2 separate regions of the Homo sapiens genome follow, and region 2 is linked to region 1. The links come from fine-mapping of genetic effects on gene expression. A gene starts in region 1. The other region holds a variant in brackets. All regions are shown on one strand. Distances are between the middles of the regions.

Evidence for each region. PIP is the estimated chance that this variant, and not a neighbour inherited with it, causes the effect.
Region 2: its variant is fine-mapped to the expression of MYO7B-AS1 in skeletal muscle (GTEx, PIP 0.92).

Annotation. Positions count from the first base shown.
Region 1 is chr2:127,628,974-127,633,356 of GRCh38, forward strand. MYO7B-AS1 (MYO7B antisense RNA 1) reads right to left here and starts at 1,811. Exons shown (of 3, transcript XR_923314.3): 1 at 1,402-1,811; 2 at 464-586. MYO7B (myosin VIIB) reads left to right here. Exons shown (of 48, transcript NM_001393586.1): 35 at 672-853; 36 at 1,805-1,935; 37 at 2,233-2,390; 38 at 2,627-2,780; 39 at 3,273-3,428; 40 at 4,285-4,383. RefSeq lists silencers at 3,844-3,933, 4,034-4,083 and an enhancer at 4,354-4,383.
Region 2 is chr2:127,182,310-127,186,692 of GRCh38, forward strand. It overlaps CYP27C1 (cytochrome P450 family 27 subfamily C member 1), which reads right to left. Exons shown (of 9, transcript NM_001367502.1): 9 at 1,523-4,383. Among named protein-coding and RNA genes, the nearest start is that of CYP27C1, 36 kb to the right of the region's middle. RefSeq lists an enhancer at 656-1,212. The variant A/T (reference allele first, on the strand shown) is at 2,040.

The DNA.
Region 1 (4,383 bases):
GGCCACAGCTCTCCCACAAGCCAGCACTCCATCGAGAGCTGGGCTGTGTCTGTGGGCTATGGGGGAGCATGGCAAAGCCCCAGGACCCCCGCTGGGCCAGCCTGCTGGCCGGGTGGTCATGGGCGGTGGGTGGTGTGGTTAGTGCAGGGACTTCAGAAGGGGGTGCTGGTTGGGATGTAGCAGAAGAGGCTGTGTGTGGGGTCTTTGGGCAGTGAGAAATGTCAGCCGAGATGTGCTGCCCTATCGCCCCATTCAGTCCTCACGGCCACCGCAGGAGGGAAAGAGGATTGCCATCTCCAAATTCCAGATAAGGAAGGGGTCTAGAGAGGCAGGCAGCACTCAGGCCAGGCGTGGGGACTGCCAGCCTGTGCATCCTCCCCTCCCTCATCCCTGGCTCCTGGTCAGCCCTCCGAGGGTCTCCCAGGGCTAGGGCTGCAGTCAGAGCTCTCGAGCCCCCACCCACCCTGGGCTCTGTGCCTGTGCAGCTGCAGCAGGTGACAGCCGTCTGAGGCCCCTGAGGTTCCAGTCCCACCATCGCTCACTCTTGGAGTGGTCTTCTGCCCACCACTCTATGCCTCGGTTTCATCTGTCAAAGGAGATGACCCACAAAATTCCAGCACAGCCTCTGGCCCCTGCAGAGCCCTCAGCAAATAGCCTCCCTGCCCTTACAGATGACACCACCCTCCTGGCCTTCAAGAAGGGGGACCTGTTGGTCCTCACAAAGAAGCAGGGGCTGCTGGCCTCTGAGAACTGGACCCTCGGCCAGAACGACAGGACAGGCAAGACGGGGCTGGTGCCCATGGCCTGCCTCTACACCATCCCCACGGTCACTAAGCCCTCGGCACAGCTGCTGGTAACTGGCACGCTCCCCTGTCCTCAGCCTGGGTACCCGAGGTCAGGGTGGAGCAGTCCTGGGATGCCTAGTTGGGAGGCCTAGCTCAGGGCCTGCAGCCCACCTAGCAGAGGCCAGGAGGGCCACCCGGGCAGCCCCCACCATTCCTGCGGCAAGGTGTGTGTGCAGTGCCAGCCCAGCTCTTGGTACTTAGTAGGTCCTCAATAAATGGGTGTTCCCTCCCTCTTCCATCATGGGGGTGTCCGGGGGACAAACCCAATCTTTCTCTGCCTCATTTACACTCTGACCCAGGGGGACTCAAGTCTCTCCCTGCACAAGGGAACCACCCACCCCAGCCCCCAAGACCAGCCTCTCCGGAGGCAGGAATGGCAGGCATTGCAACATGTACATACTGAGTGCTGAGTATGTGCCCTGTGCCTGTGGTACGAGTCTGGGCATAATAGCAGCTCCACCCTCAGGGCAGACATTTGGGCAGATAATGACACATGGATGGCAACTGTGCAAAGTGCCACCAAGGAGAGGAACAAATAATAGGGTGGGGAACTTACCCTGTCTGGGAAGGCATCCCCGAGGGAGGGACATTTGTGCTGAGGCCTGAAGTTGGTGGCAGACTAGGCAGGCAGGGCTGGGGTGAGAGGTGGCCCCATGGAGAAGGGGAGCTGGGGAGCTGGGGGTCTGAGAAACCCAGAGTGCCGTGGCCCCCAGAACGGGTGATGTGGGTGCCACAGCCATTGGCACTCACCCTCCCAAGGGAAAGGAGACAGGCACCAAGAGGTAGAGTCATGGTCCTGGGTCACACGGCAGGTGACAGGGGTGTGGGTAAGCCCTGGCCTGTTCAGCCCTGGGCCTGACCCCTCCCAAGTCACTGAGGCTGCCAGGCCGGGAGGAGCCTGCAGGAAGGGCCTCATGGGCGGTGGCTCCTGGGCACCCACAGGCCTGTGCCCCCTTCAGAGCTTGCTTGCCATGTCACCAGAGAAGAGGAAGCTGGCGGCTCAGGAGGGGCAGTTCACAGAGCCACGTCCTGAGGAGCCACCCAAGGAAAAGCTGCACACCCTGGAGGAGTTCTCCTATGAGTTCTTCAGGTGCCCCCCAGCCCCGCTCCGCCTCATTGCACCCCCACCTCCCAGCCCCACCTCACCTCATTGCACCCCCTGCTCCCAGCCCCGCTCCACCTCATTGCACCCACTGAGAGCTGCAGAGAGGCCACGCCACCCATGTGGAGCCTGCCTGGCCTTCCCAGGCCAGGGGAGTCAGGAGGGGCTTGCGGCAGGGTGGGGTGCTCTGGCCCTCCCACAGCCACTCAGGGGTGTCAGAGGACAGAGAAGCGTGGGACAGAGAAGGCCACAGGGCAGGCCTCACACCAGCCTCTAACCTCACAGGGCTCCAGAGAAGGACATGGTGAGCATGGCCGTGCTGCCCCTGGCCCGTGCCCGTGGCCACCTGTGGGCCTATTCCTGCGAGCCGCTGCGACAGCCGCTGCTCAAGCGAGTCCACGCCAACGTCGACCTCTGGGACATCGCCTGCCAGATCTTTGTCGATATCCTTCCCCACCAGCCTGCCTGCACCTCGTCAATGCCAGGGCAGAGGCACCCAGCACATCCTGGCCCTACAGCTGTGCTCTAGGGCAGGAGAGCCCAGGAGATCTGAGAAACCTGGAGTGGCGGGACAGAGCCCACACATGGCTCACCGCAGGGCCGGGGTCGGGGTCAGCGTCTATCCCCAGTCTGTGTCAGCGTGGGGCTGCCCCAGCACTGTGCTCCTTGACAGCCACACCCATCCTCCGGTACATGGGCGACTACCCTTCTCGGCAGGCCTGGCCCACCCTGGAGCTCACCGACCAGATCTTCACACTGGCCCTGCAGCACCCGGCCCTCCAGGACGAGGTCTACTGCCAGATCCTGAAGCAGCTGACGCACAACTCCAACAGGTCTGCTGGGGCGGCGGCCAGCCCACGCGGGCACCCTCAGTCCTCATCCCGGCCCCTGAGGCCAGACCGAGGCTCAGAGAGGACACCGCAGCTGGTGGCGGCAGAACCCCTGCCTGGGCTCCTGCCTCAGCAGTGGGAAGGGTTGGGCCCTTGGTCTGCTCTGCTGATGTCCTAGGGGTGGTCAGAGCAGGAGAGGATGGCCCTGCCCACTCCCACCCTCTGTGTGTGACCTGGCAGGCCATGACCTCTCTGAGCTTCAGTGTCGTCTTCCACAAAATGGGTGCAATGCCCACCCGCCCCCATCTTGAGGGTGTGAAAGCCCGTGGCATCGGGCAGCCTGGCACAGCTGGCATGGTGCAGCCTGGCAGGTGCCCTCCCCCTCGGGCCCTCTAGACCCCAGGCAGCTCTCACATCCGTCCCTGCTCCCCAAGGTGCCTGCCTGGCCAGGGCCCCCTGAGGGGCCTTTCCCGGCTGACAAGTGCTACCCTTCAGGCACAGCGAAGAGCGGGGCTGGCAGCTGCTGTGGCTGTGCACGGGCCTCTTCCCGCCCAGCAAGGGGCTGCTGCCCCATGCCCAGAAGTTTATAGACACTCGGAGGGGGAAGCTGCTGGCCCCCGACTGCAGCCGCCGAATCCAGAAGGTCCTGAGGTGAGCCCAGTGCCTCCAGCCCCCAGCATTGGCCCTGGGCCCGCAGACCTGGGATGCTGTGGGGCCTGGCCAGCCTTCCAGGAGCTCATGGTCCTGGGAGGACTCTCCAGAAGCCAGTGTCAGCTTGGCAGGCAGGATTGGGCCCCGAGCTGCCAGAGAAGAGGGTGGAGGGTGAGGCCCAGGAGGGTCAAGAGAAGGCTCAGTCATAGCCACCAGCTCCCCTGCCCCACCACTGCCCAGCAGTGGCACAGAGGCACTGCCTGAGGGATAGAGAGAAACCTGGATGCCCCAGCCCAGGCCCTCAAGGCTGAGGTCAGAGGCCCATCCTTCCAAGTCCATGCGGCCTCCCTCATCCGCCCACAGCCGTGAAGCTCTTCCTTGGCCGTCTTTGCTCTCCCCCACCCCTCCTGCCTCCTCTGGCTTGGCCTCCTGTGGCCGTGAGGAGGGCAGGTTGACTGTAGGAGTGGCCATAATTTCAGTGGCAGCCGTGGTCACAGAGAGAGGTGGGCGCCCCATAGAGGCCCTGCCAGAGTCCCTGGCCCCTGCCCGATGCCCCTGTTGTGCGAGAATAAGAATACTGCCAGCCTTTCCTGCCGGCGCCTTCCCGGGAGCCCCTGGCCTGGCCCTTCCCCGTGTGTGCCCCAGGCTTTCAGGCACAGCTGCACCATCACTACCTCTGAGGCCGCGTGGAGCCAGGGGCAGCCCCCAGGACATGCGAGGGGCTGGAACCACCCCAGTGATGGTCACTGGGGTTTTCTTTTGTTTCTGGCACATGGTTTAGGGCCCACATCGGGGCTGGGGCATGGGTGAGGATGAGGGTGGGGGTGGCACCTGCAGCACACGCTGTCCCCCTCAGGACGGGGCCCCGGAAGCAGCCCCCGCACCAGGTGGAGGTGGAGGCCGCAGAGCAGAACGTCTCCCGCATCTGCCACAAGATCTACTTCCCCAATGACAC
Region 2 (4,383 bases), 450 kb before region 1:
TGCAGTGGCTCGCACATGTAATCCCAGCACTTTGGGAGGCAGAGGTGGGCGGACCACATGAAATCAGGAGTTTGAGACCAGCCTGGCCAATGTGGTAAAACCCTGTCTCTACTAAAAATACAAAAATTAGCTGGGCTTGGTGGCACACACCTTTAATTCCAGCTATGCGGGGAGGCTAAGGCAGGAGAATCACTGGAACCTGGGAGGCAGAGGCTGCAGTGAGCCAAGATGGTGCCACTGTGCTCCATCCCGGGCCACAGAACGAGACTCTGTCTCAAAAAAAAAAAAAAAAAAAAAAAGTATTCTGAATAGCCCAAGTCTTCATCGGAGGTGGAGGAGGGAGGGGCTAGAAATGACACACAGGTGTGCAGGGACCCCAAGGGAAAGAGGACACACGGGAGAGAGGACGTGCGGCCCAGCAACTGGCGATGCTGGCCAGTGGACTCCTGTGGCTGCCAGCTCAGCAGCCCTCCTGCTTTTGTCAGAGCACCTGTCCATCACAGGCCAAGCCCCTCAGGAGAGCCACAGAAACATGAGCCAGGAGCTGGGGAGGCCCCAGATCCTGAGCTAAGATTCCTGGATGGCCCTGGCTGATGCTTGGCTGGTCTGCTGGTCCTTCCATTTGACAAATGCCCAGTGTCCCTCTGATAAGTTCCTTTTTACTTTCACCTAAATGGCTCTGCTGTCTCTGTGCTGGTCCCCCACCTTCCTGATGGGTGTGCTTGCCTCTGCCGGGAAGGGGCTGTGGAGCCGCCTCACGCTGGCATTTGCTTGTGCTGGGCCCTTGGCTCGCTCATGAACCCCGGCCAGCTTCCCAGACCTGACCAGCAGGTGAGCCCTTTCATTTGCCCAGCACATTCTTAAAATTGGAGGTTGAAAACCTTCAGGCAGGGAGTGCCCCCATGGGCCCCACCACCCCCTGCTGTCATACCCTGTGGTCTGACCCATTTAAGCCCCTGCTGGGACCACTTCTCCTTTTCTTCCTGCTATCTGACTTGTCTGTCTTTCCTTCTCAGCTGCAAAGGCTACCTGGGCCCCAACAGGTCCCCTAAACCCTAGCACAACCATTGTACTATTGCAGTGTGTTAAGTCAATCATTTCTAACCAACCCCCCTTTTTTTTAAGAGATGGGGGTCTCACTTTGTCACCCAGGCTGGAGTACTATGGTGTGATCACGGCTCTCTGCAGCCTCAACCTCCTGGGCTCAAGAGACCCTCCCACTTCAGCCTTCTCAGTAGCTAGCACTACAGGCATGCATCACACCTGGCTAATTTTTAAAATTTTTTTGTAGAAAGAGACTCACCTTGTTTGCCCAGGCTGCTCTCAAACTCCTAACCTCCAATGATCCTCCCACTTCCACCTCCCCAAGTGCTGGGATTACAGGTATGAGCCACCACGCCCGGCCTCTAACACTATTGAAAGGGAAGGTAGAGCTCTCCGCAGAGCCTAATTTACAATCAGTTGTGCTGGTAAAAGCAAATAGTAATGGAAAATGAATGAATGATGAGATTATTGATCAGTCTTTTGTTTCTGAAGGCATCTTTTATTACGGAAATGTTCACACGTACACAAAGTAGAGAGCATAATGTCATGAGCCCCCACTCACCACCCTGCTTCCACAGTTAACAACATCTGCCTAATCTTGGGTCATCTCTTCCTCCCGCAGCCTCCCCACCTTCCCACACACACAATACCCACCTCCTGCAGCAAGCTGGGTTATTTTAAAGCAAATCCAAGATGCCATAACATTTCAGCCATAAACATTTATATCTTTAAGAGCTATCTCCAAGAGATAAAGTCTCTTTTTTTAAAACATAACTACCATTATCACAACAAAAAAATTAACAGTAATTCCCAAATATCATCAAATACACACAGTCAGCATTCAAATTTCCCCGAGTTGCTCTCTTTTTTTCATGCATTGGAAGAATTAATATTTTTGGCTTTTATTTTATTTTTAAAAATTATCTCTTAAATGTCTTTTTACAAGTGGTTTATTTGAATCTGATTCAAACGAAGTCCAGCATTGTACTTGGTTA[A/T]TATGTCTCCTATATTGCTTCATCTGTAACAGTTCTCCTCTCCCCTTGGTTTTTTTTTTGCTTTTTGGTTTTTGTTTTTTTTAGATACGGAGTTTCGTTCTTGTTGCCCAGGTGGAGTGCAGTGGCGTGATCTCAGCTCACTGCAAACTGCCTCCCAGGTTCAAGCAATTCTCCTGCCTCAGCCTCCCAAGTAGCTGGAATTACAGAAGCCCGCCACCATGCCTGGATAATTTCTGTATTTTTAGTAGAGATGGGGTTTCACCATGTTGGCCAGGCTGGTCTGGAACCCCTGACCTCAGGTTATCCGCCCGCCTTGGCCTCCCAAAGTGCTGGGATTACAGGCATGAGCCACCTCGCCTGGCCCCTCCTCTTGTTTTTTGCCTGTCACGTATTTGTTTTGTTGGAAACCCGAGACATTGGTCCTATAGACCTCACTCTATTCTGGATTTTGCTGACTGCATCCCCATGGAGTTTGTTTGTGTGTTTGTTTGTTATGAAGTCTTGCTCTGTCACCCAGGCTGGAGTGTAATGGCGGATCACAGCTCACTGCAGCCTCAACCTCCCAGACTTAAGCAATCCTCCAGCCTCAGCCTCCCAAATAGCTAGGACTACAGGCATGCACCACCACACTCAGCTAAGTTTTTTGATTTTTAGTAGACAGGATCTCACTGTGTTGCCCAAGCTTGTCTCAAACTCCTGGCCTCAAGCAATCCTCCTGCCTCAACCTCCCCAGAGTGCTGAAATTACAGGTGTGAGCCACCACGCCCAGCCCCCATGGAGTTTTGACATCTCCCTGTATACCACATATTTCCTATAAACCAGTAGCGAACCTAGAAACTTGTCCAGCTGAATCTCCATTTCTTTGGCGTGGATGCTTCCTGGGTGGCGCCCTGCACTTCCTGCTACATCACACCAGGAGGCCCCCGTGTCTGGCTGCTTCCCTTCCTGTTCAGTGAGACTCAGCAGCGGGCACAGGTGCTACCCCCAGCCCGCACTTTGCTATTCACCCTGTGCTGATCCCCAGGCAGAGCCACACTTCACGAGAGGGTCACACTGTATGTATACCCAGGGAATAAGAGGTCACTTCAAGTCGCTTAGTTATTCTCAATATTTTTAAATTTCAGTCTCAAACAGAATGCAATTTCATCTAGTTTATAAAACTTAATATACGTATACTGCTACCTCAAAGTAATCAATCCAACACTTGGCCAGTTAATATGACCTAATTTCACATTTACCTGTACATTTACAGCATTCATACTAGAGTTATTCTGCTACCACACAGAGATTTCAACTTTATTATATACTTTAACAAAAATGGTATGTGAAATGGATATTATGTCTATTTACTTAAGGGTTATTTTGCAGAGTGACTTACTAAATGGAAAAAAAACTGTATGGTCTATATTAGTAAGAAAGTAATTTTTGGAGAAGGATTATGTAAAAGGAATTACAGAATTGGGAATAAGCTGTTTCAGGCATGATGACAAGGCAAGAGCATCAGGAAATCACGGTGTTTCCTCTTAGCAACCGGTGAGCAGCAGGAAAGGCAACAGAACTCCTCAGGACCCAGCACTCCCGGAGCCACGGCTTCCCAGAGAGCCTGGCACAGGCACACAACTGGGTGAGGGTTCTTGTGTGGATATTTAAAACAACACCATCAAGATAAAAATATTGTTGTATCTGTAGCATCTCTATTTATGTATTTATTTTCCCTTGAAATAAAAATGTTCTAAAGTTACATTGTTTTCCATGCTGCCTGTTTTATTACTTCTCACAACTTAGGCAACAAAATTTTACGTCATCATATTTCCAGTTCTTATACGTCTGCTCTACTCTGTATTTAGATTTGGTTAGAAAATCTGATTATTCTTGATTTCACCAGGAGCTTTCTTTTTTATTTATTTATTATTTATTTATTATTTATTTCTTCCAAATAAAAACTAATAGTCAACTTCATTAGGCATTATGACTAGAAAATTAAGCACTCGTTGTGGAGAGAAAAGTATTCTTATACAGCCATTTTATTTTATTTTATTTTATTTTATTTTATTTTATTTTATTTTTGAGAAAGGGTCTCACTCTGTCACCCAGGCTGAAGTGCAGTGGTGCCATCATAGATAGCTCACTGCAGACCCAACCTCCTGAGCTCAAACGATCCTCCTGCCTCAGTCTTCCGAGTAACTAGGACCATAGGTGTGCACCACCACGCCCGGCTAATTTTTGTATTTTTGGTAGAGACAGGGTTTCACCATGTTGCTCAGGCTGGTCTCGAACTTCTGGCTCAAGCAATCCTCCCACCTTGACCTCCCAAAGTGCTGGGATTACAGGCGTGAGCCACCGC